5 linked regions of the Homo sapiens genome follow. The protein of the gene in region 1 purifies or fractionates together with the protein of each later gene. This does not show direct contact. Each region holds a gene or a part of one and is shown in the gene's direction. Other genes may lie near its edges.

Region 1 (6,455 bases):
TCAGGAAGGGGTGGATGTGAAAACCATGATGAACACTTGGACACTGCAGAAGGGTTTTCCCCTAATAACCATCACAGTGAGGGGGAGGAATGTACACATGAAGCAAGAGCACTACATGAAGGGCTCTGACGGCGCCCCGGACACTGGGTAATGCTCCTAGAGTAAAATTTGTTTTGTTGTCTAGGTAACATCTGCCTTGTAGGATGGAACCTTGCTTTTGAAATAATGCCCTTACCACTATTGCTAAAATATTTCAGCTGCATCTGTGTATCCTATGAAGTTGACTTATACTCCCTGCCCCCATCTTCCCAGTAGGATTAAGGAGGCTTTAAACCTTGGTTATTCTCAGTAAAGGTGACGATGTAATTACTTTAACATTCTCATATTTTGTAATTTGATATGATGGTAATTTCTGGTTACTGGCTTGAAATCAACTCCAACCTAAGCAACTGCTACTAGATTACAATAGTGCCTAGCATTTGGTTGGAGCTGAGGACAAAAGAATTTAGGTGATTTCCGAGAATGATGAGAGACTCAGTTGTCTTCTTCTGAGTTAGATTTGGAACCTGTTTGTCAGCTTAATGCTATAGAAGAATATTATTAGAAACAAGATGCTGCAACTTGATTGACCCTGGATGGATACCGTTAAAAAATTCTTTTATCTTGAAACAATTTCAGACTTATAGAGAAGTTACAAGAATAACACAACAAATTCCTATATATCCTTTACCTAGATACATGTTAACTCTTTACTCCTTTACTTTCTTCACCTCCCTCTCTCTCTTGCTCTCTCTCTCTCTCTATATATATATGTATATGTTTGTGTGGATATATGTGTGTGTGTATATATACATATATATGTGTATATATATACACACACATATATATATATAATATATACACCTCCCTCCCCCATCTTCCCAAAAGGATTAAGGAGGTTTTAAATCTTGATTAATCGATATCCATCTATCTACATACATACCTATATACATATGTCTGTATGTATATACTTGGCATATGTTTTTCTGAACTGTTTGACAGTAAATTGGTGACATGATTCCCCTTCACACCTAAATGTTTCAGCATAGTATTTTCTACAAAACAACATTTATGGCCGGTCACAGTGGCTCATGCCTTTAATACCAGGACTTTGGGAAGCCGAGGCAGGAGGATCACCTGAGGTTAGGAGTTCGAGACCAGCCTGGCCAACATGGTGAAACACCATCTCTACTAAAAATACAAAAATTAGCCGGGCATGGTGGCGGGCGCCTGTAGTCCCAGCTACTCAGGAGGGTGAGGCAGGAGAATCGCTTGTACCCAGGAGGTGGAGGTTGCAGTGAGCCGAGATCGCACCACTGCACTCCAGCCTGGACAACAAGAGCGAAACTCCATCTCAAAACAAACAAACAAAAAACAAGAACATTCAGTTATATAACCATAGCCACAGTACAATTATCAAAATTGGGAAATAAACTTTATATAATACTATTATCTATAAATCCCATTCAACTTTTTCCAATTGTCCTAAAAATATCCTTATAGCAAAATAGAAAATAAATTCTGACTTAGGATTTAATACAGGATCACTTATTTTATTTAGTTGTTGCATCATTTTGGTCTCCATTTTTTTCTGAAACAACTCTTCAGTCTTTTTTGGGCTTCTCGATATTGACATTTTTTGAAGAGTACTGGCCAGTTATTTTATAGAATGCCTTTCAGTTTGGATTTTCTGCTGTTTCTCCATGATCAGGTTCAGCTTACATATCATTGACAGGAATCCCAAGGAGGTGATATTGTGTCCTTCCTAATATACTATTCAGGAGGCACATGAGTCCTGAAGTTAGGCCTCTGAGATGCAATCAGCCAATCACTGTAAAAAGGCTTTCAGGGTTCACGTGAGTCCAAATTCTTAGCTCTACTCAAGGAGTCCAAGAAAAGGAAATAGTGCCCGAGCTGACACTCCCTACAAAGCTGGAAAACAGACTGGGGATGTTTTGAGAGCTTGGCTGTAGCAGTTTTGGTACTATCTTGTTCTAAACTAACCAGTGCCTGGCACATGATAGGTGATTTAATAACTGCTTGTTGAATTGAATCAACAAATGAACAATCCACCTCTCCTTTATTTTAGGTACCTGTGGCATGTTCCATTGACATTCATCACCAGCAAATCCGACATGGTCCATCGATTTTTGCTAAAAACAAAAACAGGTAATTTATTTTGGAAACTACTAGTTAATTCAAGGAGGAATGTGAAAATGTGTAGGATTAAAGTGCTGTTTCTTTTGCTATTTATCTTGGTTAAAGCAAAAGGGATCAGATTGAAAATGCTTTCTGGTTTCAAAGAAGAATGGCCAATATCTTGCCAGATAGAGATTATAGCTGAATTATATAATGCTAAAAAGGAGGGATTACCAGTGAACATTCACTATTACTTTGTTAACATTACTGGGTTATATCATATGTATGGCCAGAGATGTAGTTGCCATTCTTTTCATAGATCTGTAAATCTCACAAAATTGATGTCTAAAGCTAGTGTTAGCTTTTGTCTATTGAGTTGCTGTTTTCTGGTTTCTGAGAGAAATAAGTGATGTTTTCAAATTTTTCAGTATTAAACTCTTCTCTAATTTCCTTGCCCAATCTTGGATGAGAAAAGCTTTCTTCAGGCAGGGGAGCAAATGGAACTTTGATTTATTTTATTTACTCTAGATGTGCTCATCCTCCCAGAAGAGGTGGAATGGATCAAATTTAATGTGGGCATGAATGGCTATTACATTGTGCATTACGAGGATGATGGATGGGACTCTTTGACTGGCCTTTTAAAAGGAACACACACAGCAGTCAGCAGTAATGATCGGGCGAGTCTCATTAACAATGCATTTCAGCTCGTCAGGTAATACACGCTGCACAAAGTCGCGGTTTATTTCTGAAAGCAGCTGTTATTGTTCAAATTCTTGATTTCTAAAGACAAAAATGATTGATTGATAACAAGAAGTTGAAAGGTGTTTTCCTTTAAGTTCTTCTAACAACCCAAGATTGCTTTTAGTCTTATAATTAACCTCCTGTCTGTGACTACTAAGGCACTTGAAGGAAGGAATCTGTATCTTAATCTTTCTCATTAATAATTCAGATCATACTGAGGCGGAAGTGTAGATAACCAGGAGATCAACATCCTGGCGAAACTCCTTGCCTTGTCCCCGCGGCATGGTCCCGCAGCTTCTTCTGGCCCCGCTATACCGGATCAGGTTTCTCCCACCACTGGGTCTTTATAACAGCCTTGAAGTCTTCTTAGAAGACTAAGTGACACAGGCCCAAGTTGTTTGCATTACATTTCTTGGGTTAAAGAAGGGATTTTTTTTTCTTTCCTAAACCAGATACCTGAACTTTGCAGCATCTTTATGGAATATAGCTCATAAAATGTAGCCCAACCAAATGATCTCTGAGTGTGTGAAGACAGAATTAACACTACCCTTTTTTTTTCCTCCCCCATGACAATGGTTTTTAAGGAAATGCTCCCAAAGCCTAAAACTCAAACTTCTTCAACATGTAGGCAGACCTAAAGTCCTAAGAGGAAGCATGCAGGTGGGAAGGATTATCTCTTTCTCCTCATACCCGTATCCTTCTGGCCTAAATTTTGAGTGCCTTCTGGTTCTTCTCACCACCATACTGGGCCTCCTGAAGTGAGAAAAAGCAATGGGGGAGAAAGTTATGGGTTGCTTACCTAGCTGTTTCTTTCTGCCTAAAAAATTCCCCTCTGTAGAATATTTCTGCTTGAGCCTTAGAGGGCTTCTTCTTTTTTATTTTTTAACTTATATAATATATACCCTACCACTGAGGTTTTTAACACTAACCCTCTGTAATGAAGGGTTTCTAAGGATATGCAGTGTCTTTGAAATGGAGAAGAAAATGTGTTTCCTCCAGGAACTCATGGTTTTGACCAGATGATAGTCTGTTTGACCAGGCTTCCTAAAGGGTCTTTGATGGAAATCCCTTGCTTACTCTAGAAGTTCACCACTCAATCCAGTGTTTCACAGGGATAGATGCTGATGTGCTTCCTTTCCGGCTTATCCACGTTAGCCCTAGACGTTACTGTTTGAGAAACTTCCTCCCTAGTGTAAACATGCCGGATGTTGTGTTATATGTGATAGAAAAGAGACTTATATAGTAGTTATCTATCTGTTTGTTTATTTATTTTTTGGAGATGGAGTCTCACTCTGTCGCCCAGGCTGGAGTGCAGTGGTGCCATCTCAGCTCACCGCCTCTGCCTCCCGGGTTCAAGTGATTCTCCGGCCTCAGCCTCCCACATACCAAGTACCTGCCACCATGCCTGCCTATTTTATGTATTTTTAGTAGAGACGGGGTTTCACCATGTTGGCCAGGCTGGTCTTGAACTCCCGACCTCAGGTGATCCACCTGCCTTGGCCTCCTAAAGTGCTGGGATTACAGGCATGAGCCACCGCGCCCGGCCGTAGTTATCTATTTATAAGGGACATTTATATCTGATTGCTTGTTTTGCTAGAAGATTAAAATATATTTTGAAGCAAAAAGTTGACTTCCCGGATTTACTTTTAAACCACTAACCACAGTGTCTCTTGGTCAGCATTGGGAAGCTGTCCATTGAAAAGGCCTTGGATTTATCCCTGTACTTGAAACATGAAACTGAAATTATGCCCGTGTTTCAAGGTTTGAATGAGCTGATTCCTATGTATAAGTTAATGGAGAAAAGAGATATGAATGAAGTGGAAACTCAATTCAAGGTAAAAGCCTGAAATAAAAGTTATGTAATTATTATTTGTGTTAAAAAGTGTTAATCATTGTGTGTGTATGTGTGTGTGTGTGTGTGTGTGTGTGTGTGTGTGTGTATCTTTATATACATATTAAGGAAAAGCAAATAAATATTAGTTCAGTATTTAGATGGACTAGCAAGATTTTGGTTTTATTTGGCACTAAAAATAGGAATGGCATTCTTAGACTCTATTTAATTTGCATGGATTTGTTATTTCCTTCCTTTCACAAACCTTTTATTTCATTTTCCTTTCCTATTACAATGGCTGACGTTCAGATTTTCTGGGACTCTTCATGGTACTTGAGGAAGAGGCACAAAATTGTTATGCTTGGCAAAATGTCCTGAAGTCTTGTTGCATAATTTGCTCTCAAAATTTAGTCATGTAAACTCTCTTTGAGTTTGTTTTAAAAGTCGCAATTCATCCTGACTTTAAGTAGATGGATATCTTATAAAAGTTTGTTATGAAAATATGAAAGTCATTCATCATTATTTATTGTTTTTGGCCCTTTTATAATTAAACAGTGCTGCATGATTTATACAGTAAAAGTTAGATTATGCTTTAAAAATTAGCCCCCATCATCTGAGACCATAATGGATTATATTAACATGAAATGACCTGTGACAATACTGGTCCCTGTTTCCCTGTACAACGCCCTCAGGCCTTCCTCATCAGGCTGCTAAGGGACCTCATTGATAAGCAGACATGGACAGACGAGGGCTCAGTCTCAGAGCGAATGCTGCGGAGTCAACTACTACTCCTCGCCTGTGTGCACAACTATCAGCCGTGCGTACAGAGGGCAGAAGGCTATTTCAGAAAGTGGAAGGAATCCAATGGAAACTTGAGGTCAGTCCTTACTAAATAACCAATTTGTTGATGTGAAGGGCATCTTTTCTGTTTTCCATCATTGGTACTAAACATTAGGGAAAACAAAAAGTTTAAGTGTCTCCCCTGCTGCCCTTTTCTGGAAAATAAATTGCTTTTTAAGATTTATCTATGTATCTCGTAACTTTAAGAAATGCTAGGAGGGAACTTCTATGCATAAAAGTCAAATATCTGGGGAGTTAGGATGGTATGGGAATAATTCTCATTTTGTATAGGCAATGCAAAATCTTATTAAACGGTGACAGCCATGCCATAGAGAAACACATGCATTGTATTTTATAGTAGTTTCTTTGGGCTTCCAAATTCCCTGACAGGGATGCATAGTAATTGCTGACACTGTCTAAGCAAGGTAGGATTTTACCGTATCTGGAAATCCCTATTCTTGCTACACTTCAGTCCTTTTTACATTTGGAGCTTAAACCCCACCCAGGAAACATTTATGCCAACAACCTACATGCTTCAGCTTAAAGAAATCCAAACAGTGGTCCTACTGCCGTCCTGACTTGTGATCATGGTGTAAATTTTGAATATAGTTTGAATTTCTTTTGGCTTGAAAGGTGATCCCCTATGGAGTCACCCAGCATCATTAAAGTATTTAAATATGTAGGTATTTATAAAAATGGCATTTCACATTTTTGAGAAGGCTACTTAAAACCTAATTTTAGATATTTTTCTCTTGCCTTTTTTTTATAAAGTGTAACTAGGCCAGGCGCGGTGGCTCACGCCTGTAATCCCAGCACTTTGGGAGGCTGAGGTGGGTGGATCACGAGGTCAGGGGATCAAGACCAT
Region 2 (6,455 bases), on another chromosome or scaffold:
GTTGGGGACAAGGTGTGTGGGGGTAGGGGATGGTGGAAGACAGCCTTTCTTGGTATTGAAAGGTTGATACCCATGCTTCTGGCTTGGGCAGCTGGGTACTAAGAAGGGGAATATAACAGGAGGAGCAGGCTTTAGGAGAGATAGAAAAATGACAAATTGGGTTTTAGAGATGTTGAGTTTGAGAAGCTTGTGAGAAATCCAAGTGAGGATGTCCATCGCAAAAGATAGGTGAATCTAGAGCTAAGGAGAGAAATCTGGGGTAAAGATAGAGATTTTGAAATCAGAATAGTAAATGGGCCATAGCAGTAGATAGAGTTATCAGAGAGAATGTATAGAATGAAAGAAGGGCAGAAAGTAAAACTCTAGGCCAAAGTACTAGTTGTCTGACCTTGGGCAAATTATTTAACCTCTCAGTGCCTCCCTGTTCTTGTCAGTAAAGCTGACAGTAGTACCAGCCAGATAGGGTTGTAGAGGATTAAATGGACTATTATATGTTAAGCACTTAGAATAGCACTTGGCACATAGTAAGCACTATTTAATGATAGCTGCTTTTCAAGGGAAGAATAGAAAAAGAGGGGCCCAAGGGGAGCCACCAGAGATAAGAGTATATGGGGTTTCAGCCCCTAAGGAAAGAGGTTCAAGTAGGAGGAACCAGTCAACAATGTCAAACAATGCTGAGAAGCCAAGTAAGTTAGGAAGTGAAAATTGTCCATGACATTTAGTGATAGCCTTGGTAAGAGCATTTTCAGTGGAGTGACCAGATTCTGGTGAGCTAAGTAAATGGGGACAGAGGAAGTGAGACAGCAAATATGGACAGCTCTTTCCAGGAGATTAGACTGCAAAGCAGAAAAGAGGGTGGTAGCTAAGGAGGGATTGAGACGGGAAGGATATATACATTTCTTAAGTTGAGAATGACTTGAACTTGGGTTGTTAGAAAGGTGCTGTAGGAAGAAAAGGTTGAAAATCCTGGGGAGGTGGTATGACTGATAAAGATGGGTCCTCAAGGAGAGAAAGATATAGAATTGCCATAGTTTCTATAAGTTCCATGAGAATAGGGATCGTGTCTAAATTGTTAACTATATACCCAAAATAGTGCCTGGCACACTAATAAGTAGTTACTGAGTGAATTAATGATAGACATTAGTTCTTTTTTTTTCTTTAGCTCAAAACCTTGAGTATAATAAGCATACAAATATTTATTAAATAAATATATGGCCAAAGAGGAATAATTTACAAGTCTCTTATCTTTTAGGGAAGGATTTCAAGAAAATATTAACACCCTGATAAGTTTATTTGAAATATATTACTAGATTTCAAAAAATTTTAAAATCTAGTTGGGTATTCCAGGCTCTAAAAATCAGTTCCCTTGTTATATCTAGCAAGTAAGCAAACAAGAATAAAAGTGACGCAAAAGTTCAAAATGAAATCTGCCAGGGCCCACTAAAATAAACATGGCAAGTAGAAATGTGGTAATAGGAAGCACTTCAGTGAAACTTTACCTAAATACTTAAAGTATCCTCAGTAGAAAAGTGAATTTATCTCCAACAAATGAGTTTGTATTTAGTCCTGAGAATTATGGGCCAACTGAGATCTCACTTATGATTTCGTGTGTTTTAAGAAGTGCCGTGACATGAAGAGAGTTGAAATTTTAGGATTGAGCAGAGATCTCTTGTCATCAGACATACTCCTAGCCTAACTCGGTCTCTTCCTCATTGCCAATTCCTGGTCCTGACCCTATGGTGTAGAATTCAGACCAGAGGAGAAAGAGTTGTTTCAAGGCCAACTTCAGACGTTGACAGTGAAATAAAACATTACTCTTTTCCTTGTATATGGAAGCACTGCAAGGTCAGAGAGGAAGAGCAGTGGGTGAAAGCAAATGATTTCCGTCTGTTCTTAACTCTGATGCATAAAAGATGTGTGTAAATACAGAGTTTTCTGATGAAGACCATAATAAATCAGTGGAAGATTTTTGGAGCTTTTGACTCTAGCTTTGGGGCTGCCCAGTCTAAAGTTACTTCTGAGATGAAATGATGTATCAGGGATTTTTTTTTTTCATTAGGCCAGGTATTCTAGCAGTTAATCTTGAAGTTGTGCCTGGTTGATCTTTTAAGATAATTGCCATCACCACATAGTTTAGAAATCTCCCACCCCAAGTTGAAGGTGATACACTAAAGAAGGGAGAGAAGCCAGAAGCCTCACTTTCATTCACTTAGTCATTCTTTCAACATGTCGTTTCCAGCACTTTTCTATGTGCCAGGTCTTGAGCTGGGTGCCTGAAATAAAAAAGATAAATAAGACTTCAAGGAGGTCTTACATATGCTCAATAAGCAAGACTGGGAAAAATAAAATATTTTTCTTTGTTAGAAAAAGCTGGGGAACTTTGCTTTAAGTACAATCCTTTGAGAAGGCTAAATCAATTACCCATTCACAATGTGGAATGTTACATTATGGATTTGTGTGAAACGGCACTTCTATAATGATTAGAGAGAGATGTATGTTCCCTTTAATATGCCACACAAGCTGTTCCACCAATTTTCTTCTCTTGGCCTTGGGCATACTTACTTGTCCGGTGCTGTTAGTATTATTAGAAATTATTAACAAATGGCTGTAAAGGACTATAGGTTATAGGAGCCAGTGGCTCTGCTTCCAGCTTCTCCCATTTTTTTTTGTTTTTCATTTTGAGACAGAGTATTGCTGTGTCGCCTAGGCTGGAGCGCAGTAGTGTGATCTTGGCTCACTGCAACCTCTGCCTCCTGGGTTCAAGCAATTCTCTTGCCTCAGCCTCCTGAGTAGCTGGGACTACAGGCGCGTGCCACCACGCCCAGCTAATTTTTGTATTTTCAGTAGAGACGGGGTTTCACCATGTTGGCCAGGCTGGTCTTGAACTCCTGACCTCATGATCCACCTGCCTTGGCCTCCCAAAGTGCTGGGATTACAGGCGTGAGCCACTGCACCTGGCCTCTTCTTTGTTTTAAAGCATGATTTATTTATTTATTTTGAGACAGCATCTCACTCTGTTCCTAGGCTGGAGTTGAGTGATGAGCTCATGGCTCACTGCAGCCTTGACCTCCTGGATTCAGGTGATCCTCCTACCTCAGCCTCCTGAGTAATCAGGGCTATAGGCATGCGCCACTACACCCAACTAATTTTTGTATTTTTTGTAGAGACAAGGTTTCACCATGTTGCCCAGGCCCATCTTAAATTCCTAGGCTTAAGCGATCCGCCCGCCTCAGGTTCCCAAACCGCTGGGATTACAAGCGTGAGCCAATGCGCCCAACCCTACAGCATGATTTACTCTGGCCAAGAGAGTTGCCAGGAAATTTGTTAATATTTAAAGCTTAGTTTTGATTCAGTCAATATTGCAAATCTAGCCCTATCAGAGGAAGGTCTTTAAAAACAAAGGCTATTTCATTTCCCAAGGATAATGAAATTACTGCATCTTTTATTATTGTTGGTTGCATTCCTACTCTTTTGAATTAGAATACTTTTATCAAAAACAAGAATATTCAATTAGTGGTAGAAGGCACCTAATTCCAATCCTATCTATTACTAACTAGATGTATAACCTAGTAAAAGTGACTCACTTCTCTCTAATATTTGTTTCTTTATGTAATAGAGAGTTTCATACATTTTTCTAAAGTCGATTCTAAACAATATTAGAGTTAAGTATTGTGTGGAAGAAGCAAGAGTTTGAAAATAAAGTTTTATACTGACATTAGTTTTTTTTTTCTTTTTTTGTTGAACCACCCAAGAATGCATATGCTGACATTAACTTAATGTAACATTTCTGTCCCCAGATTTAGTGCTATACAATGTGCAGCTGCCGTCCCTAGAGCTCCTGCTGAATCCTCTTCGTCTTCCAAAAAGTTTGAGCAGTCACATCTTCACATGTCAAGTGAGACACAAGCCAACAATGAGCTGACCACCAATGGTCATGGCCCACCTGCATCCAAGCAGGTTTCCCAGCAGCCCAAAGGAATTATGGGAATGTTTGCCTCCAAAGCTGCTGCTAAAACCCAAGAAACCAACAAGGAAACGAAAACAGAGGCTAAAGAAGTAACAAATGTAAGTCTTCTTTGAAGATACCCCTTCATTGCAGCTCAGAGTGGGTAACTAGAAAAGCATTAATGGTTGCAGTGGTAGTAGTTTATTTATATAAGATTCTGATATTCAGTTCTGATTTTTCTACTTTAGTTTGAACCCTTTAATACTTGATATTGTTATCTGAAAGAGTTCTTTTGCTTTTGATAATGATTCTCACCAAACCTTGGATTTCCTTTGCAAAATGGTAATGCCTACCTTGTGCACATTACAAGATTGTTGTGAAACCCAGATGAAAACATGTGAAAACACCTCGAGAATTGTTGACATTCAAAAAAATGTTTATTTGCAATATGTCTTTCTGAGGAACATCTTATATTCTGGGCTTTGCAACATATACCTTCCTTCCTAGTGTATTTCCCATTCTTATACTTTATGCAGGTTTTTTTGTTTTGTTTTTGCCTTATTTGCTTCTCTTAGATTTTTATTGTTCAGTCATCTGAACTAACTCAAGGGCATTGACTTAAGAAAAGTATCATTAAGATACTATTTTAAAAATCCAGAAAAGCATAATTATTGTTGTTACTATTATTATTATCACTGTCATTTTCCAGTGTCAAGTGTATTTAATTCAGATCACTGTCATTTTCAAGCGTCTGTCTTGGGAAAGAAGAAGGATGGAGGAAAACACTAACGTTTATTGAATTTCAACTGTGTGCCAGTGTCTTTGTTTAAATCCTCTTATCAGTTCTGTGAGGGAGATATTAACTATTTCCCTTTCGCATATGGTAAAACTGAAACCTAGACTTAAGTAATTTGCCTGGAGCCCATATTGCTACTAAATGGTGGGAACCAGGAATTCAGATCTACTTCTGATGATTAAAAATGTAATGTTTTAGGTTTTCCCGCTTTGTGTACATACTGCCTCTGATCTTTTTTAATTCTGTCAAATTAAATAGTTTTTAAATGTGCTCAAGAAAAGTTTAGCTATATCCATGGATAATTAATTTTATAAGATATATAAGAAACTAAGCTTTAGAGATTAACACCAGTTACTGTCTGGTGTGGATTATTGTTCTAGATTTGTTCTTATATCTAACACCTACGCGTTTTGGCATGATTATATAGAGACTATACCATCGCAACAGTTTGCTATAGAAGAGTTTGTTTGAGACTGCTACTTCATGAACAGCCTAAATGCCAGCAAAAAATCATATGTGTTTTCTGTGCTTGTAGGCATCTGCAGCAGGCAACAAGGCACCAGGGAAAGGGAATATGATGAGCAACTTTTTTGGAAAAGCTGCTATGAGTAAGCATGTTCTTACCTCACTTTGACTAACGAATGAATGTTAATGTAATGACATATTATACCTGAAGTGAAAGCCACTTTGTCTAGTTTTTGCCAATCCAAGAGACTACCTGCATTCTAACAAATTTCCAGTGTACTGCCCAATATATTGATGAAAGTAACTCAGCTAGAACTTTATGGGTGAGTTAGGCTCAGTTGAGATCTCTTTGAGAGCAGTTTATTATTCCTGGTTTAACTTCCTGCCTTGAAAAGATAATGAACTATTTGCTTCATAGGGCCCTTGAAAATGGGTGATTAAAATAAAAGGGAGGCTGCCTGGCTACGCAGTATAGTGTTGAGGTTAATAACGTGGATGCTAGAGTCAGTTTGCCTGGTGTGACCTTTATTTCTTCTATCTCTCAAGGGTCCACAAAAGCAAATATTTTGCCTTTCTTCAGTTATTTTTTGCAGATTACTCACAGTAATGAATTAGACTTCCAGTGTGAATTAGAAGGGCCCAAGTAGTAATGGACATTTAAAAATCTTTTTTGAGAAAGCAAAAATCTTCTTTATTTTTAAAAAGATACTTAAGTAAGAATTCTTTCGTATGGAAAGAACCAGTAGTCACATATTTTCATACTTCTCATATCAAGTGTACATCCCCTGAGAGTATGTGGTAGAATACCAGGAAGAATGCAGGAGCCACAGGATAATTATGGCACACTTTCTTGGAGCATCAGTTTTACAAAGATTTTTCAAGGAGGCATTTTGTTACATGCCTATGCAAGCAAAATTAGTTAGAATTCTGCCTTTCCATGATGGCTAAATTGGTGGTCACGGGAGGGATTGAAGTGACTTTTTTTTTTTTTTCATATTCTGCTTATGTAAGGGTGACAGTTTTTGTGTTTGCTGTAAAAGCTATCAGAGAACGTTTTTGTGTTCTTGCAGCTCAGAATGGGTAACTAGAAAAGTGAATGGAAAATGTGATACTTAAAGGTTACTCGGAAGCATTATTGTATTACTGCAGGCACAGTTGGTGCACAGGGAATGCTTCCTACTTCTGTTAAAACAGGTCTCCAACCCACAGTCCACTGATGGGTAGCAGTCCGTGGCCTCTTGGGAACCG
Region 3 (6,455 bases), on another chromosome or scaffold:
TCACCATGTTCCTTTAGCTGTTTAGCCATTTTAAAGGCCTGGCTAAATTTCACATTAAAAGGTTTTAAAAATTTGTTTAGTGTATTTTATCAGTAAAGTGTTTTTTTTCTCTCAGTCCCAGAACGAAACCTCAGGAAGCCAAGTCCCCTGAAGCATATGTAGCCCTGAATGACGTGGCCTTTGTTTTGTCTTTTGCATCTAGGTCTCCAGTCATGTTCCATACCCTGTAGCGTTACATGTAAATATAGTCAATGTCCCTCAGCCAGCTGCCGCAGCCATTCAGGTAAGATCATTGATCATTCACTGTTCAAAGCACCACTTTTAAGAAATGCTTATTTCTTTCATCTAAACACATATTTTTACCTGAGCAACTAAAGTAAAAAGGAAAGGGAACATGGAGAGGAGAGCAGAGTCTTGGCCAGCAATCTATTAATCTTGTCTTCTAGAATGAGTTTGCTCTGGAATTTTCTGATTCTTTGATGTTGCAAGGTGAAATAACTCATCAGTCAGCATCCACTCTAGCCTGAGATTTCACATCACTCCCTTAAGTCTGAAATAACATTCACAAAGATTTCTGCAGGAGCCAAATTTGGTTGGTGGTGTTGTCACAGTGAGGCTCTTTGGGCTGTGCGGCACCTCATGACCATATTGGCTACACCCATTGTATTTGCAGCTTCCAATCAGACCTTTGTCTTTATTTCCCTTACTTTGTAATTTCAGAGACACTATAATGATGAAGACCCTGAGAAGGAAAAGCGAATAAAGGAATTAGAATTGCTCCTAATGTCAACCGAGAATGAGCTAAAAGGACAGCAGGTGCTACCAGTAAGACTGTCATCATGTGCTTGAATGAGGGGATAGCAGCTTTGCCTCAGTTTACCTAAGCGCTCTTCTCTTCTAAATATTACACTTAGCAAGGCTCCATATATCCATTCAGAATGTCTCAACACAAGAAGTTGCTTGTAGTAAAATGTAGTTGGTATCAGATTATATGCTGATTAAATTGGAAGCAGTCTTTTTGTAATTGCAATAAAAATGCAATATCCACTTATGATTGTTATCATCAATTTTTTTCTTCAGAAGGACTATAATCAGTTTAAAGACTAGCAAAGATAAAATGAATGAAAATCTGCATTTTCTACAGAGCTATGTATCTATATGGTACCATTTTGGTTTTTTTCTATTATTTTGTTAACCTATATTTTCATATTTTATAATTTCAGACATGATTTGATGCATGTTCAGTATATACATGTAAAAGGTTATATATAAAACCTCTTCATAAATAACATTAGCTGCTCTCTTTTATTTGCATGTGTGAAAGTTATGTGGGCCATTACTGAATTCTGACATCTTTAGCGACTGGGCAGCCAACTGGGATGGCTCCTTGTGCTTTGCAACATACATAGTTAACCAACAAAGACAATAAAAGAGAAGTGATGCCCAGTAGGTATTCCTAGGGGTAAATTTATTTTTTGTTAAATAATAAGATGTTTATGTGCACATGCTAGTTCGACCACTTTTTAACTTTAGTTAATGTTTTGCAATTTCTCCTGTTGTGTGGTCATACTGTAAGGAGACTTCTGTTAATTTGCTCTTCTGCTTTCCTAACCACGTTGATTTGGCAGTGCTTCACTGCATCAGTGCAATCTGTAGCATTAGAAAGGGATAGAAGCAACAAGAATATGTGTAGATCAAAGCAACTCTAACTCCTGAGTCCTCTAGCTTTTTTGTGGTTAGAATGCAAATAGGACAGTTCTTCAGTTCTTCACTCACAGCAAGCATTTATGGACCTTTGGCAAATTATATTAAAGTGGAATTTTAAGACAATATGATAATTATACTTCGAAATATAGACCTATGATTTGACATTTTTACAAAATGATAACAAGGTAATCATATAGGTACAACCTCTAGCACTATTAAAAACAGGGTCTTGCATTGATAAAAGGAAACATCTTGACAACTGTTTCATAGGCGTAAGTTTGGGATGATGCAACTACTCTTATCTTTCCTCCAACAGCATCTGATACCTTGTGCAACTTCATTGCTAAGTTCCTTCTCCCTTTCTTCTGTCCTCTCTTTATTTCTACACCCTTCCCCCTTCCTTAGACACAGAACCACACATGCAGCTACCCCGGGTGGCACAGCACCACCATTGCCGACCACACCAGACCTCATGGAGACAGTGCACCTGTTTCCTGTTTGGGAGAACACCACTCCACTCCATCTCTGCCAGCGGATCCTGGCTCCCTACCTGAAGAAAGCGCCTCGCCAGCAAGGTGCATGATCGTCCACCAGGGCACCATTCTGGATAATGTTAAGAACCTCTTAGAATTTGCAGAAACACTCCAATTTATAGATTCTGTAAGTAGAATTGTGAAGGGAAGTTAACGATTCTGGAAGATAAATTAGAAAACCCATTTCTTAAATCATTGCCATTTTCTATAGCCAAGCTGTTATTAGCATATATTAATGTAAAGGTAGAAGTATGATTTTCATCTTCATGAATATGTTTTTTCAAAGATCTGATTTCATAGCCTACCGAGAGAGACAAAAGTATTTATAAATACTTACAAAATAGGACTTTTGAAGGAAGAGTTTTTTTTCACATTTTCACACTTTTCCTTCAAAAGTCATATTTTTAAAAATAGTCAGATTGATGACTTATAAAGCAGAGCTTGGATTATGGGAACGGAATGGTGTTTGAGTTACTTTTAACTTTTTTTTTTCTTTGCTTACTTCATGGTGCTTCTCTAGAATTTTGTCTTGCTTTTGAACAGCACATTAATGATTTGGCTTACTCAGAGCTGAAAGCAATCTTTTAGTGTATTTGAAGTAATAATCAGCTCCTTGGTCATACCTGGCTCTTTCCACAAAATGGTGATTATTGATTACTGGTCCCATTGCTTCACTGAGATGAATCATCTTTCGTGAAACAAATTTGTATTCAGCACCTCCTCAGCGAACACTTGGTTCCTTTCCCAGTTGATTAAAAATCATTTATTGCACACTCATTGGTTAGGAGATGACCATTGCCGTAATATGCCATCTAGAAAAGGTCTTCATTTTGCTTTCCATTGCATGCAGATGTAGAGTGTCGGGAGGTCCCTGCAGCACATCAGAGGGCCAGCCTTGAGGCAGCCCACTAGACCCTGCTCTACTGCAGTATAATAGAGCAACTGCTCATCTTGAAGCTGTTGCTCAAGAAGCCAAACCAACGGGCCTAGTGTTTGCTTTGCGTTGAGCATCTCTCTCTCAGTGCTGTTTCAGGTGATGATGGCACACACTATCTCAAAGTTCTGTGCCTCCCACATTGTTTCAGGATTCTTCATCATGGTGTGATCTCAGCAGTTTTGAATTCTTTGAAGAAGCAGATTTTTCACCTAGCCAACATCACACAGGCAAAGCCCTACAGCTTCAGCAAAGAGAGGGCAATGGGACTAAACCTGCAGGAGAACCTAGCCCAAGGGTGAACAAACGTATGTTGAGTGAGAGTTCACTTGACCCACCCAAGGTCTTACCTCCTGCAAGGCACAGCACAATTCCACTGGTCATCCTTCGAAAAAAACGGGGCCAGGCCAGCCCCTTAGCCACTGGAGACTGTAGCTCCTTCATATTTGCTGACGTCAGCAGTTCAACTCCCAAGCGTTCCCCTGTCAAAAGCCTACCCTTCTCTCCCTCGCAGGTAGAACACAATTTCTGCACAGCTGTTACTCATTTTCAACAGACACCTGAGCCTTAATAATCTAGAAACTAATACTTCGGAACAAATGACTAATTACTGCTGCCTTTGCTGATTTCATTCTGTCGTTGAATCTAGCTGTTGCTAAGTTATACTGCCTCCCAAAGTTTAGGCTGTCTGCAGGCTAACTGTTGATTTTGGCATCATTCTCTCTCTTTTACTTTTGGGTGGTTTTGAAAGATAGTTGCATGAAACGTACTTTTATTTCCTTCAACACTAGAGTTTAACATTTCTGTCCCTTTCTTTTTCTCCCATCTGATCCCTCCCTTTAAAATTGTTAACATCATTTCTTCCTCGTTGTTCATTTATTCTTATGCGATTCACTGACCCAGGGGAGGAGGGAACCAAATTGTGTTTATATAACATTTGGGTTGCAACTAGAAAATTTAAAGCTAGAAAATTTAAAGGTTCCAATTCATCTTTAAATGGAAGAGTTTGGGAAGAGGATGAGAAACAAATGCTTAAGGAAAAGAACATATTTTTAATTTCAGTTTCTCAACATTGGCTCTTTTGAGTTGTGCCATACTATTTTACTAGTGCAGTTTTTGCCAAGGAATATTTTTATTTCATACAGCTTTTTTAAGGCATGAAAATCACAATTCTTATCAGAGATTTGTGTTCCTAAATTATTTAAATAATTAAATTAATAGATAATTTGGCACTTTAAAACATTTTTCCAATTGTATCTGTTGAATTTGTTTTAAGAACAGATTTAGGTATGATATAGGTATATACATTTGGGAAACACTGAATCAAACAAAGTTACAAGTAGGTTTCTTAGCTGGGCATAGTGGCATGGGCCTGTAGTCCTAGCTACTGGGGAAGCTAAGGCAAGAGGATTGCTTAAGCACAGGAGTTCAAGTTCAGCCTGGTGAACATAGCGAGATCCCATTTCTTTAAAAACTTTCTTTTTTTTAACTGCAGGCCTTCTCAGAGTTATTAATATGCCGTTGTGCCTTGTGAATTTCCAGGAGGAGATTATGATATGTTGTGTTTCCCAAATTTATTTTACCTTGGAATTGTTTAAGGAACACCTAGTTTTTTCCCAGAACTTTAGTGTTCTGAGAGACACAGTTTATTATTCAAGAATTTTCCATATAATGTAAACCTTCTGTAATACTAATTTTGGTTCATAGATTATTAAAGAGAAAAAACAAAGTATGAAAGGAAACTATTAATTATTAACTATTATTTTCCCCAAAATCACTAAAGCCTTTTAAATGTTAATAAAGAACACATCTCATTCTCTTTAATGACAAGTGTCATTTATTGAGAGTATTTTCTCACAGTTTTGCAAGTTTTTCAGCAATGACCCTAAATTTTATTTCTTGGAAACCACACCCAAATCCTGGGTGCTCAATTGAAATAAAACAATACCCTAGTCAATATAACATGCTTGTTAGCATCTTTATTATTTAATATAGTGGGTCAGGAAAACATTCTTGTTATCTAGGTGTGATTTTTAAATTGGGGAGAATAAAGAATTACCATCTAATCTAAGTATTTTTTCTTTCTCTCCATATTTAGTTCTTAAACACTTCCAGTAACCATGAAAACTCAGACTTGGAAATGCCTTCTTTAACTTCCACCCCCCTCATTGGTCACAAATTGACTGTTACAACACCATTTCATAGAGACCAGACTGTGAAAACTCAAAAGGAAAATACTGTGTAAGTCTTTGGTTCAGGAATAAAATGATTTATCTTATTTACTTATATTTAATTAATGGAATATAGTTCCCAGATGTCTGATCCACTTGTATGTGCATAATTTTACTGACCATTTATATATAATCATGTCTATTCCCACATTGAATATATCTGTCCTGGGCATATTACAACTACCTACAGGTAGAAGATGGGAAGATAAACTAGATTCCTTTTGTAACTTACTCCAAAATTTCCTATATATGCACAAGTAGTTTTCATAAAACTTTTCCATTCGGTTTGTTTGTTCCCTCCATAAGGCCTTCTTATGAAAGCCAGATTTTCAACCTCCTTTCCTCTCTAATTGTAAGCTTCAGAATAAGAACGAGTATGGTTTCTTACCTAGTTTGTATTTTTATTTAATTTTATTTGTTTATTATTTATTTATTTTTAGTTTGTATTTTTTAATCTTATTTTTTCTTTTTGAATTTATGTGTAGATAGGACCTCTTCTGACATCCCCAGGAATATTATATGATTAGAAGCCAAGGGATGAGTAAGCAGTCATTTTTATTCAATAAAGCCTTAATCAATTCAGAGAAATGGTAGAGAAAGTGTGAATTATCAGAAACCTTGAAAAGAAATGCACTGTTATTTCGAAGTACAAAAAGTAAATTTTAAAAGTTTAACATGTTTTGTAGTATGGGCTCTGTTTTCATGAATAGGGAAACCTGATTTGTAAATGACATCAGGTCTTCTTGATGCTCATAGTCTTATACAGATCATAGGCACTACATGTGTCTTCAGAGCCATTAAGGAAAGATGTTAAATCATTTAATGCTTTTAGTCTTCGAGGTATAATATTTTGAAATATTTGAAAATATGTGATATGCATATTCTCTTTTTCTTAACGAATAACGTGATTAATCAGCACACCCCAATTCCATATCCGGAACAGAGTTTATTGTATTCAGTGGAAAAATGTTAAATGTAACAGGTAAAGCCATGTAGGGACATTTATTCTTTTGTATTGAGCCACTGCTTGTTTTCTTTTTAAAGTTTTAG
Region 4 (6,455 bases), on another chromosome or scaffold:
CTTAAAAGTATCTTAAGGAAATAATCTCAAATGTGAGCAGTTTTACGTGAGGGAGGATATTCTTTGTAGCATAATTTATATGAAGAATTAGAAACACCCTAAGGTCCATCAGCTAGGGGAGGACAGCAGAGGGGACGGGGAAGCATCAGGAGGGCTCGGCAGCCACAGCAGGGGCTGGGCCGGCATCTAGCAGGATCCAGGTCTTTGTGGGACAAAGAATCTTAGAGAAGCAACGGGGACACAGGCTGTCCACTGCAGCACCAGTGAGTTCACCAAGACGAAGAGTTGAGCACAGAGTGTGAGACAGGGATTTGCAATGAGGAGTCATTTACCATGAGCGTGTATACATGACTCAATATTGTATATTTAAGGGAGTAGAGCACAGTAATTGAAGACATGGGATTGAAGCAGAAGTCCTGGCTCTAGCACTATTGTGAAAACACCCATAAGTTCCCTAACTTTTGTGGATTCCTCTGTGTTCAAATGGGAAAGTGGTACCCATCTCCTGTCCTGTGTGTGATCATCGAATGAGATACATGTCAGAGGCCATGCACATCACAGACACACAATACACACTGGCTATCATCAACTAGTTATCATACATGTTCCCAGGCCCAGGTCATTGTCAGAATGTTCCCTCCCATCTCTATTCCTGTGTATAGACTCTGTAGTTTCTGTAATGATCAGATGGCTGCCCCTCCTCTGATTATCTTCTTCTCATACCCCTACAGGACAAGAGGACCCTGCCTTGGTGTGAGAGTGAGGGAAGAGGAAGCTGGAACGAGGTGAGTTTCTGTAAATACTAGCTGGCAGGGCCCCAGGAGATAAACACTCTGGACATTTGCTGCTACCACAGAGGGATCTGCAAAGACCCAGCCCCTCCAGCCTCCCTCTGTACACAGGAGGCTCACCTTCGATCCCACAATTTGTTTTCTCGTTCTCAAGGGTTAAGGAAAACCTTCCAGTCTGGACAGTGACTGGAGAGCTCCAAGGAAAGCCCCTCGGTAACCCAGCCGCTGGCACCATGAACCCAGGTAGGCTCGCTTCCTCTTTCCTGGCTAGTTCCTACTCGCACCTAGAATGGAGGGTGGCACCTCCACAGCTGAGTGAGCCCCAGAAGAACCCAGATGGACTAGGAGGCCAATGAGTCTGCCCCGAGCAGCAGAAGAGGTCACGTGGAGTCCCCCGACCCAGGGGTCTGGGGGTCATCTGCATCCTGACCTCTCCTCGGGGTGACACGGCCCAGGTGCCCACTTCCTCCCTACCCTGTCACCCAGCAGATGACTCAAGTGGGGCAGGACAGCCATGAGGAAGTGGAACAAGCAAGAGAGGGGAGTGGGGGAAGAGCAGGGTCCAGGAGGAGGGGAGGGGTGGGAGAGGAGGTTGACCTGCAGCCCTGATCTCTTATCTACCGCTCTTCTCCCTGCTGACCCAGGGTTTTTTCCAGCACAGGCCGGTCCCCTCCCTCCAGCTCTTGCCCTGCACCAGCCCCTCTGTTCTGAGTGGCCCTATGGGAATGTATCATGCTTGACCCAGCTTCCAACTTAAATGGACCCCGGTCTGGCCTTTTCCAAGTCCCTTCTGTGTGACCTGGAGCTCCTTACCTCCCCTCTCGTGTACCATGAAAATAATATTTCCCCATGTTGTCACGAAGATTAAATATTATAAGGGTACCTGGCCTGGCCAAAGCCTGCCACACAGTAGGGCCTCCCTAAGAATTAGTTTGCATCCCCTCTATCTCCTCTATCTATCCCCTGTTGATTCCAGGTGGAAGCCACCCAGTCCCCTCATCTGTGTTAGGGCACCCGCCCTGCACTGCCCATCACAAGCACCTGCTGACCAGGGATGACTGCCTCAGGCAGGGCCTCATTCCCATGATCTCAGATACCCCTTGTCAAAGAAAAATCTGAGGCACAGTAACATTTATTTGAATAAGAAGGAATTCATGAATTGAGAAAACCAAACTGGAAGAGGCTTCATGTTATGATGAAAAAGTGTCAGAGACAAGTATTTATCGAGTAAATATGAAACTGCAATAAGGACATTATTTGATTGGTTGCAGTTACAAAACTGCCTGTTTTGATTTACCTTTTTGGAAAATTCCTGGTCACATTGGTGCTGGTGGGTTTAGGAAGTTCTCCGAATCCAGGAGAGACCAGACCTTAGCCTTGTCCAGGTTTTTGACTCCACTGAGAGAAAAAATTTGAGTCAAAGAAAAAACAAATCAGCTGCAAAGCAGAAGCACAGGCTCAGGGATGGAAGTGCAGGTGGACTCAGAAGAGCCAGTTGGGCCCAGTGGGGTTTGGGGTTTCTGTCTTTGATGGTTTATTAAATTAAGGGGTTGGAGCCTTGGGAGGACTCTCTTGCTGGCTTGCGGCAGCTGCCTTTGCGCTGTGTGCTTACCTGGCCTTATTGTTTCTCTTTCTCTTCTTACAATAGGACACTAGCCCTCTAGTAGGATTAGAGCCCTACCCTTGTGATCTCATTCAGTCTTAATTGCTTCCTTAAAGGCCCAATCTTCAAATATAGTCACTCGAGTTTAGGGCTTCAGCATATGAATTTTGGGGGCACACAATCCCTCTATAGCACTGATGACTCCATCAAACATGTCCCACATCACAGTTGTCCAGGAAAAATTAACATGTAACCACCTAATGTGCAATGGCTGTTATGCTCCCCTACACTATCCTCCAACCTTATCCTTTCTTCTTTCCAACTAGAGAGCAGTATCTTTATTGAGGATTACCTTAAGTATTTCCAGGACCAAGTGAGCAGAGAGAATCTGCTACAACTGCTGACTGATGATGAAGCCTGGAATGGATTCGTGGCTGCTGCTGAACTGCCCAGGTAAGCTCCATGGGGTTAACTCCATGGGGCGCCCCAGCGATGCCACTCAGATCTCCCCTGGGCTGGTTGTCCCTGACAGGCACACCTCCTCCAGGCAGCCCCCTCTGCTGGGCTTGAGGATGACCTTCTCGGCACTCCAGGAGGAATATTTCCTCCATGTCCTTCGCTGGCAGTGAGTAGCCTCAGGCTGAGGGGATAGGAAGCCCACAGGAACAGGGTCATTTCTGCCATCTGCTGGTGATGGGAACTTTGCCAGTTACTTTCTCACTTTCAGCCTTTCTTCATCAATGGAGTTTTATTATGAGAAAAATGAGATCATGCATGTAAAGTGCTTAGCATAATGACTGACACATAGTAGGTGCACAGTTAACGTTAACATCTTACAAGCTTGGTGGAAAGAGACCAGGGTTAAGGATCTTCTTCTTGAAGATGGGAGCCCAGCAGGACTTCCTTTGGGAAAAGTCAGAAAAATCCTAACCTAAACAATATGTGTTCCTGGGGATGCTGGCTGGGGCCTTTTTTCTCATCTGAAGAATTCCACAAACACAGCAGGACCCTTCTGCTGGTCCAGGATCCTGAGAGGCCTAGTTCCTGGGCTCTGGGCTTATGTCATGGAGACTTGGAACTGTCTTCTGTCCAATAGGAATAGCAATTCAATGTCATAGGAGTGTGGTGAAGGCCTTAGAGGCAACTCCAGGTCAAAGGTGGGGAACCAAGGACTAAGATCCTGCTCAAAGGCCCAGAGAGACCGGGACCAGTGTCAGAGCCTGGAGTCAGGATGGAGTAAGAGTCAGCCTTGGTTTGGTAGGACAAGCAGGAAGGCTGGGGCACCAGGGCTGGGACTAGGGTGTGGAAAGAGAGGCACCAAGGGCTTGAAACTTAAGGAGGTCATGAACTTGCAGAGGACATGTGAGTGGGAGAGGGATATTTCTTCCCTGTCTGGATGATCCCAACACTCATGGGCATACAGGGTCATGGTAGCCTGTGTCTCTCACCCCATGCCTTGGAACTGGTGAGTTCTGGACTACCCTTTCAGACCTTCTTCTCTTCTACACAGAGAAGCTCCTTACCATGGCATGCCTTAGTGACCATTTCCAAAGTAGAATGAGTTGCTGCCAATTTGTGTAATTTCAGGGGTACTGAGCAGACTCACAAAGTCCCAACCGAGGAGGAAAACACTTCCTCTACCATCTTGACCAAATTCAGGTCTTTTCAGCATTAGCAATTTATATAGATGGTTCTGAAAGTGTCTTGAGTCTTCTAGTGGTTCCATAAAATTGCACATGGCCTTGCTGTGCACACAGGTGAAGCTGTCACTGCTAAGGCATCAGTTAGGCTGGTGACACCTGCGAGTGAGACCTGGAAGGTTGGGGGTGCAGGTGGTAGGTCAGGAGGCAGTAAGGTGGCTGGAGCGTCCATGTGGAGCCAGAATGAATAGCCAGATCTCCCACTCCAGTCAGCTGGGGCAGTGGCCGCACCCAGTAGCCTTCAGCCAGGTGAAAGGGCATGAGGCATTGGAAGGGAGCAGATGCCAGGCAAAGTGATCTCCTGTCTTTCTGAGGTTTTGTTTTTGTTTGAATTCAAAGTACTCAGAGATAGCCAGACTGCAATGTCTGAGGGCACCCTTACCTTTGACACCACCTGCAAATCTATGGGGATTCCTAAAATCATCCTTAGATTTTATAATTCACTAGAAGGACTCACGTAACTCACTGAAAACTGCTATTGCACGATTGTGGTTTATCACAGGGAAAGAACACAGATTAAAATCAGCCTAAGGAAGAGACACACAGGGCAGAGTCTGGGAGGATTTCAGGTGTGAATCTTCATTGTCCTCAGGAGGCTGTGTTCTCCTGTGTGAATGTGGGACAAAACACATGCGGTGTTGCCAACCAGGGAAGCTCACCCAGTTAAGGAAAAATTCCTGTGAATCACATTAAACCAGAAATGAAGCCTTTATTCAGGATTGTTGTTACAGGGGAGGGAGACTGAGCCCAGCTCCAAATATAGTAAAGACAGAGGGGGAGTCACAGCCAACACCAGGGTGGGGGCGGGAGATGGAACAGGACTGACAGGAGACGCCAGAGTGGGGGGTTCCTGCTAAACTGGCCTAACAGGATTCTCGCCAAAGGCAGGTCAGACCCTCAACCACCAGTGGTGGGGGTGAGGAGCATGATCAGATAACAAACGGTGCTCAGACAGCAAGCGGGGAGGACCCTCCCTAAACTGATTTGGGGAGATTCTTGCTGAGCCAAGGTGGTGCAAGTCCAGAAAGCAGTGGGTGAGTGTGGAAGGCCAAGGTCGGCGCCTAGTGGAGAAGAAGCTCTGAAGAGCCCAGCTGGAGTTGGTCAAGGAGAAAGTCCTTCTTTCTCAACCCATGCCTTAGTGTCCAGAGTATCTGCTGGGGCTGGATCACAAGCTGCCCTCATGGCTAGAGTCTCCAGCCCTTCCCTGAGATCTCACACCTTTAGTCCCCAAGTCCTCTGGAAGTCAGGAAAGACACCAAATAGCCCCAAACCCTATCATCCATCACATCGCTATACTGTCCCGTGGCCAAATCACCAGGCAAAGAAAGATGTTCCTACCAGGCAGGACATTCCAGGGGCCTGGAGATCACTTCCCAGGAGCTGAGGACAAAGGGAAGGCCTCTCTTTGGGTAAAGTTCATGCTTCACTTTCCTGCCATCCTGGTAATAAGGTCTCTTTGTCTCACTCTCACTGCTCTTTGTTCATCTGCAGAGTTTTCCCTCTCCAAACACTTTGGCAGTCACGGTGTTGACCTGCCCTTGAGTGAGGAGGCATCTTTATCAAACACCTACCATGAAAGAGCATCTGAGGTGCCTTTAAGATATTTATTTCCATATGGAATAAGTACTGAGGAATATCTATGATGAACAAAATGTGTTTGAGTTTGAAAGATAATTAATTCCATTTGTAAAATTTGTTTCTATTTGATTGATAGTGAAAGCTCTGCAATTTACACAGGATAGAGATCGCATGGAGCTCATTTCACAGATAGGGAAACTGCATTTCTTAATCCTTTAACCTTTCCTTGTGCAGGGATGAGGCAGATGAGCTCCGTAAAGCTCTGAACAAGCTTGCAAGTCACATGGTCATGAAGGACAAAAACCGCCACGATAAAGACCAGCAGCACAGGCAGTGGTTTTTGAAAGAGTTTCCTCGGTTGAAAAGGGAGCTTGAGGATCACATAAGGAAGCTCCGTGCCCTTGCAGAGGAGGTTGAGCAGGTCCACAGAGGCACCACCATTGCCAATGTGGTGTCCAACTCTGTTGGCACTACCTCTGGCATCCTGACCCTCCTCGGCCTGGGTCTGGCACCCTTCACAGAAGGAATCAGTTTTGTGCTCTTGGACACTGGCATGGGTCTGGGAGCAGCAGCTGCTGTGGCTGGGATTACCTGCAGTGTGGTAGAACTAGTAAACAAATTGCGGGCACGAGCCCAAGCCCGCAACTTGGACCAAAGCGGCACCAATGTAGCAAAGGTGATGAAGGAGTTTGTGGGTGGGAACACACCCAATGTTCTTACCTTAGTTGACAATTGGTACCAAGTCACACAAGGGATTGGGAGGAACATCCGTGCCATCAGACG
Region 5 (3,102 bases), on another chromosome or scaffold:
TTTAACCCACATAAAAATCCTGTGAAATTGCATTTTCCCTGTCCTTTATGGTTTTGGAACCTGAGACTCAGATAAATGAAGTTGTCCCAAGTCACAGTGGATGCATTGGCGCTAGATTAAACTCCAGATCTTTCTGATCATATTCTCCCTCTTCCCCCTTTAAAATTCGAATTGGCCATCCTGTGGTGGATACTTTACTAGCTGTCTCACTTTGGGCAAATCACTTCACCTCTCTGAGCCTGTTTCCTTGTCTGTAATTGGTGATAATAATGTCTACCGTAAAGGGATGGTGTGGGCATTAAGTGGTTTATGCATTTAAAGTGCCTAGCATATTGCCTGGTACATAGTATATTTAAATGCTTACTTATTCATTAATTTATTAATCAAATAATGTATTAAATGCTTGCTGTGTGTCAGGCACAGTTCTCCGCACTAGGGGGATAGCAGTGAACAGGACAAACAGTGTCCAAGCCCTCCTAGAGTTTAACATTCTAGTGGAGGGAGACAGATAATGAGTAAATTGTTAGTTGTTATTGCTGTCATTTTGGTATCTTCACAGTGTAAGTGGCTAAGAAATTTTGATTGACCTTGCTCCTGTCACTTACTGTGTAGCAGTAGCTTAAACTCAGAGTGACCTTCATATACATCTTGTATCACATCACCTCTTTAGAGGTTACTGAATCTGGCATCCTTAAGAGTTGTTTTTGGGAATACCCTGAAAGCAGAGATGGTCCTTTATTCGTCCTGAATCTCTGACACCCAGCACAGTGCCTGGCACAAAGATGCTCAGGAAATGATTGTTGATTTTATTCCTTTTCTCTTATTTTTGAAACAGCAGTAACAGGATTGGTTTCCCAAGTGCAGTGGGTTGGACGCTCTGAGTTGGAAGGCAGAGGAGAACTAGGGATTGTTAGAGGAAGACAGCAGCAGAAAGAACCGTGCTCACTTAATTATGAGCATGAAAAAGGCAAAAAGTAGAACAGACTGGGTGCGGTGGCTCACACCCGTAATCCCAGCACTTTGGGAGGCCGAGGCAGGAGGATCGCTTGAGCTCAGGAGCTCAACACCAGCCTGGGCAACATTGGGAGACCCTGTCTCTGCAAAATAAAAAAATTAGACAGGTGTGGTGGTGCATGCCTATGGCCTCAGCAACTTGGGGGCCTGAGGTGGGAGGATCACTTGAGCCTGGGAGGTTGAGGCTGCAGTGAGCCATGATTGCACTACTGCACTCCAGTCTGGGTATAACAGTGAGACCCCATCTCAAAAAAAAAAAAAAATGTAGAATGGCATTTGGCACCAGTTAACAGTCTTCCTGTTGAAGCAAAGGCAACTCCCCCTGCTTTGTTTTTTTAATAACATACAATGCAGAGCATTGGTTCGTAAAGATGTGGTAATATTAATAATAACACCTACCAGTTCTCAAACCACTGCCATGTGCTAGGTGATAGGTTAGGTACTTTATACCTGAACCCTTTGGATCATAGCTCTGTGTTGTCAGGAAGAGATTGAATGATGTTCAGTCTGTGGTATGTAAATTGACTAGTACCTTTTATATTTTCACTAAAAAGTCTTAACATGAAAAGGAGTATAGGTTTTGGTTAACTGGAACAAGAATGTATGTGGCACCCCCATTCTGCAGTGATGGAAGAGGCAGAGGCATGGCTCCATTCCTGTTGATGTACACAGCTTTGAAATCTGATTCTCAGTAGTCACCTTCCTGTCCAATTTCCATATTCTCTTGACACGAAAAAAATAGAATCTTTTTCTTTTTTTTGCCTGTAAGTTTGATTGAGCATGTCAGTGTTCAATGGCCAATTAATTTAATTTTTTTTTTTTATTTAGGGAGCTAAAAAAGTTCATTTGGGTGAAGATTTAAAGAGTATTCTTTCAGAAGCTCCAGGAAAATGCGTGCCTTATGCTGTTATAGAAGGTATGTTTGCTTATTGGTCAATGGAAAACAACGTCTTTTTCCCAAAAGATTGATAAAGATCATCTTGGCTAATATGAAGAGCCTTTTGTGGTGTTGGGTCCATGGTCCAGAACATACTTTGGGGTCAGAAAGACATGGGTTATTGCTTTGTGATCGCTAAGATTACCAAACCTCCCTGAACCACTGTTGCCTGATCTCGAAAATAATACTTACCTTTATGGGGTTGTTATAAGACAAATTATGTGATCCATGCAAAGTGCTTAGGAGAGTGCTTCTAAAATGTGACTTATGGTGATCAGAATGTCATTGTTTTGATGAATTAGCAAAAGTCAACTGAAAACACTTAATTTTTAACATTTTTTAAATTAAAAAAAAAATTTTTTTTTGAGGCCAGGTGTGGTAGCTCATGCCTGTAATCCCAGCACTTTGGGAGGCTGAGATGGGCTGATCACTTGAGCTCAGGAGTTTGAGACCAGCCTGGTCGACATGATGAAACCCCGTCTCTACTAAAAATACAAAAATTAGCTGGATGTGGTGGCACATACCCGTAATCCCAGCTACTCGGGGGGCTGAGGCAGGAGAATTGCTTGAACCCGGGAGGCGGAGGTTGCAGTGAGCCAAGATTGCACCACTGTACTCCAGCCTGGGTAACAGAGTGAGACTCCGTCTCAAATAGAGTCTTGGCTCTGTCACCCAGGTAGCTGTAGTATGGTGGTGTGATCATAGCTCACTGCAGCCTCAAACTCCTGAGCTCAAGTGATTCTCCTGCCTCAGCCTCCCAAGTATCTGGGACTACAGGCACATGCCACCACACCCTGCTAACTTTTTAATTTTTTGTAAAGATGGAATCTCACTGTGTTAACCAGGCTGGTCTCAAACTCGTGGCCCCAAGTGATCCTTCTGACTTGGCTTCCCAAAGTGTTGGGATTATAGGTGTGACCTACTGTGCCAGACCAGAAAACACATTTTAAATTATCTGAAAGGAGAGGGCAGAAAACTTCTTCAGAAATAATAGAATTTGTGTCCACTTAGGAGCTGTGCGGTCTGTTAAAGAAACGCTTAACAGCCAGTTTGTGGAAAACTGCAAGGGGGTAATTCAGCGGCTGACACTTCAGGAGCACAAGATGGTGTGGAATCGAACCACCCACCTTTGGTATGTATCACTTCTCCAC

The links.
Region 2: the proteins of ERAP1 (region 1) and POLD3 purify together in Homo sapiens (tandem affinity purification; one large-scale study listed by IntAct). This does not show direct contact.
Region 3: the proteins of ERAP1 (region 1) and MYB purify together in Homo sapiens (co-immunoprecipitation; one large-scale study listed by IntAct). This does not show direct contact.
Region 4: the proteins of ERAP1 (region 1) and APOL2 purify together in Homo sapiens (affinity purification with mass spectrometry; 2 studies listed by BioGRID and IntAct, with this or other methods). This does not show direct contact.
Region 5: the proteins of ERAP1 (region 1) and MUL1 purify together in Homo sapiens (affinity purification with mass spectrometry; 2 studies listed by BioGRID and IntAct, with this or other methods). This does not show direct contact.

Annotation. Positions count from the first base shown.
Region 1 is NC_000005.10:96,782,223-96,788,677, reverse strand, and holds part of ERAP1 (endoplasmic reticulum aminopeptidase 1 isoform b precursor), read left to right. Parts: coding exon 1-147; intron 148-1,571; exon of another isoform or gene 1,572-2,128; coding exon 2,129-2,208; exon of another isoform or gene 2,209-2,706; coding exon 2,707-2,890; exon of another isoform or gene 2,891-3,293; intron 3,294-3,609; exon of another isoform or gene 3,610-4,597; coding exon 4,598-4,754; intron 4,755-5,442; coding exon 5,443-5,627; intron 5,628-6,455. UniProt on the Homo sapiens protein: Aminopeptidase that plays a central role in peptide trimming, a step required for the generation of most HLA class I-binding peptides.
Region 2 is NC_000011.10:74,614,740-74,621,194, forward strand, and holds part of POLD3 (DNA polymerase delta subunit 3), read left to right. Parts: intron 1-3,797; coding exon 3,798-4,065; intron 4,066-5,277; coding exon 5,278-5,350; intron 5,351-6,455. UniProt on the Homo sapiens protein: Accessory component of both the DNA polymerase delta complex and the DNA polymerase zeta complex.
Region 3 is NC_000006.12:135,193,636-135,200,090, forward strand, and holds part of MYB (transcriptional activator Myb), read left to right. Parts: intron 1-202; coding exon 203-283; intron 284-720; coding exon 721-825; intron 826-1,324; exon of another isoform or gene 1,325-1,446; intron 1,447-2,112; coding exon 2,113-2,367; intron 2,368-3,090; exon of another isoform or gene 3,091-3,273; intron 3,274-3,325; coding exon 3,326-3,688; intron 3,689-5,272; coding exon 5,273-5,415; intron 5,416-5,890; exon of another isoform or gene 5,891-5,946; intron 5,947-6,449; coding exon 6,450-6,455. UniProt on the Homo sapiens protein: Transcriptional activator; DNA-binding protein that specifically recognize the sequence 5'-YAAC[GT]G-3'. Plays an important role in the control of proliferation and differentiation of hematopoietic progenitor cells.
Region 4 is NC_000022.11:36,227,732-36,234,186, reverse strand, and holds part of APOL2 (apolipoprotein L2), read left to right. Parts: intron 1-731; 5' UTR 732-785; intron 786-945; 5' UTR 946-1,024; coding exon 1,025-1,034; intron 1,035-2,720; coding exon 2,721-2,847; intron 2,848-5,906; coding exon 5,907-6,455.
Region 5 is NC_000001.11:20,502,050-20,505,151, reverse strand, and holds part of MUL1 (mitochondrial ubiquitin ligase activator of NFKB 1), read left to right. Parts: intron 1-1,842; coding exon 1,843-1,930; intron 1,931-2,962; coding exon 2,963-3,083; intron 3,084-3,102. UniProt on the Homo sapiens protein: Exhibits weak E3 ubiquitin-protein ligase activity. E3 ubiquitin ligases accept ubiquitin from an E2 ubiquitin-conjugating enzyme in the form of a thioester and then directly transfer the ubiquitin to targeted substrates.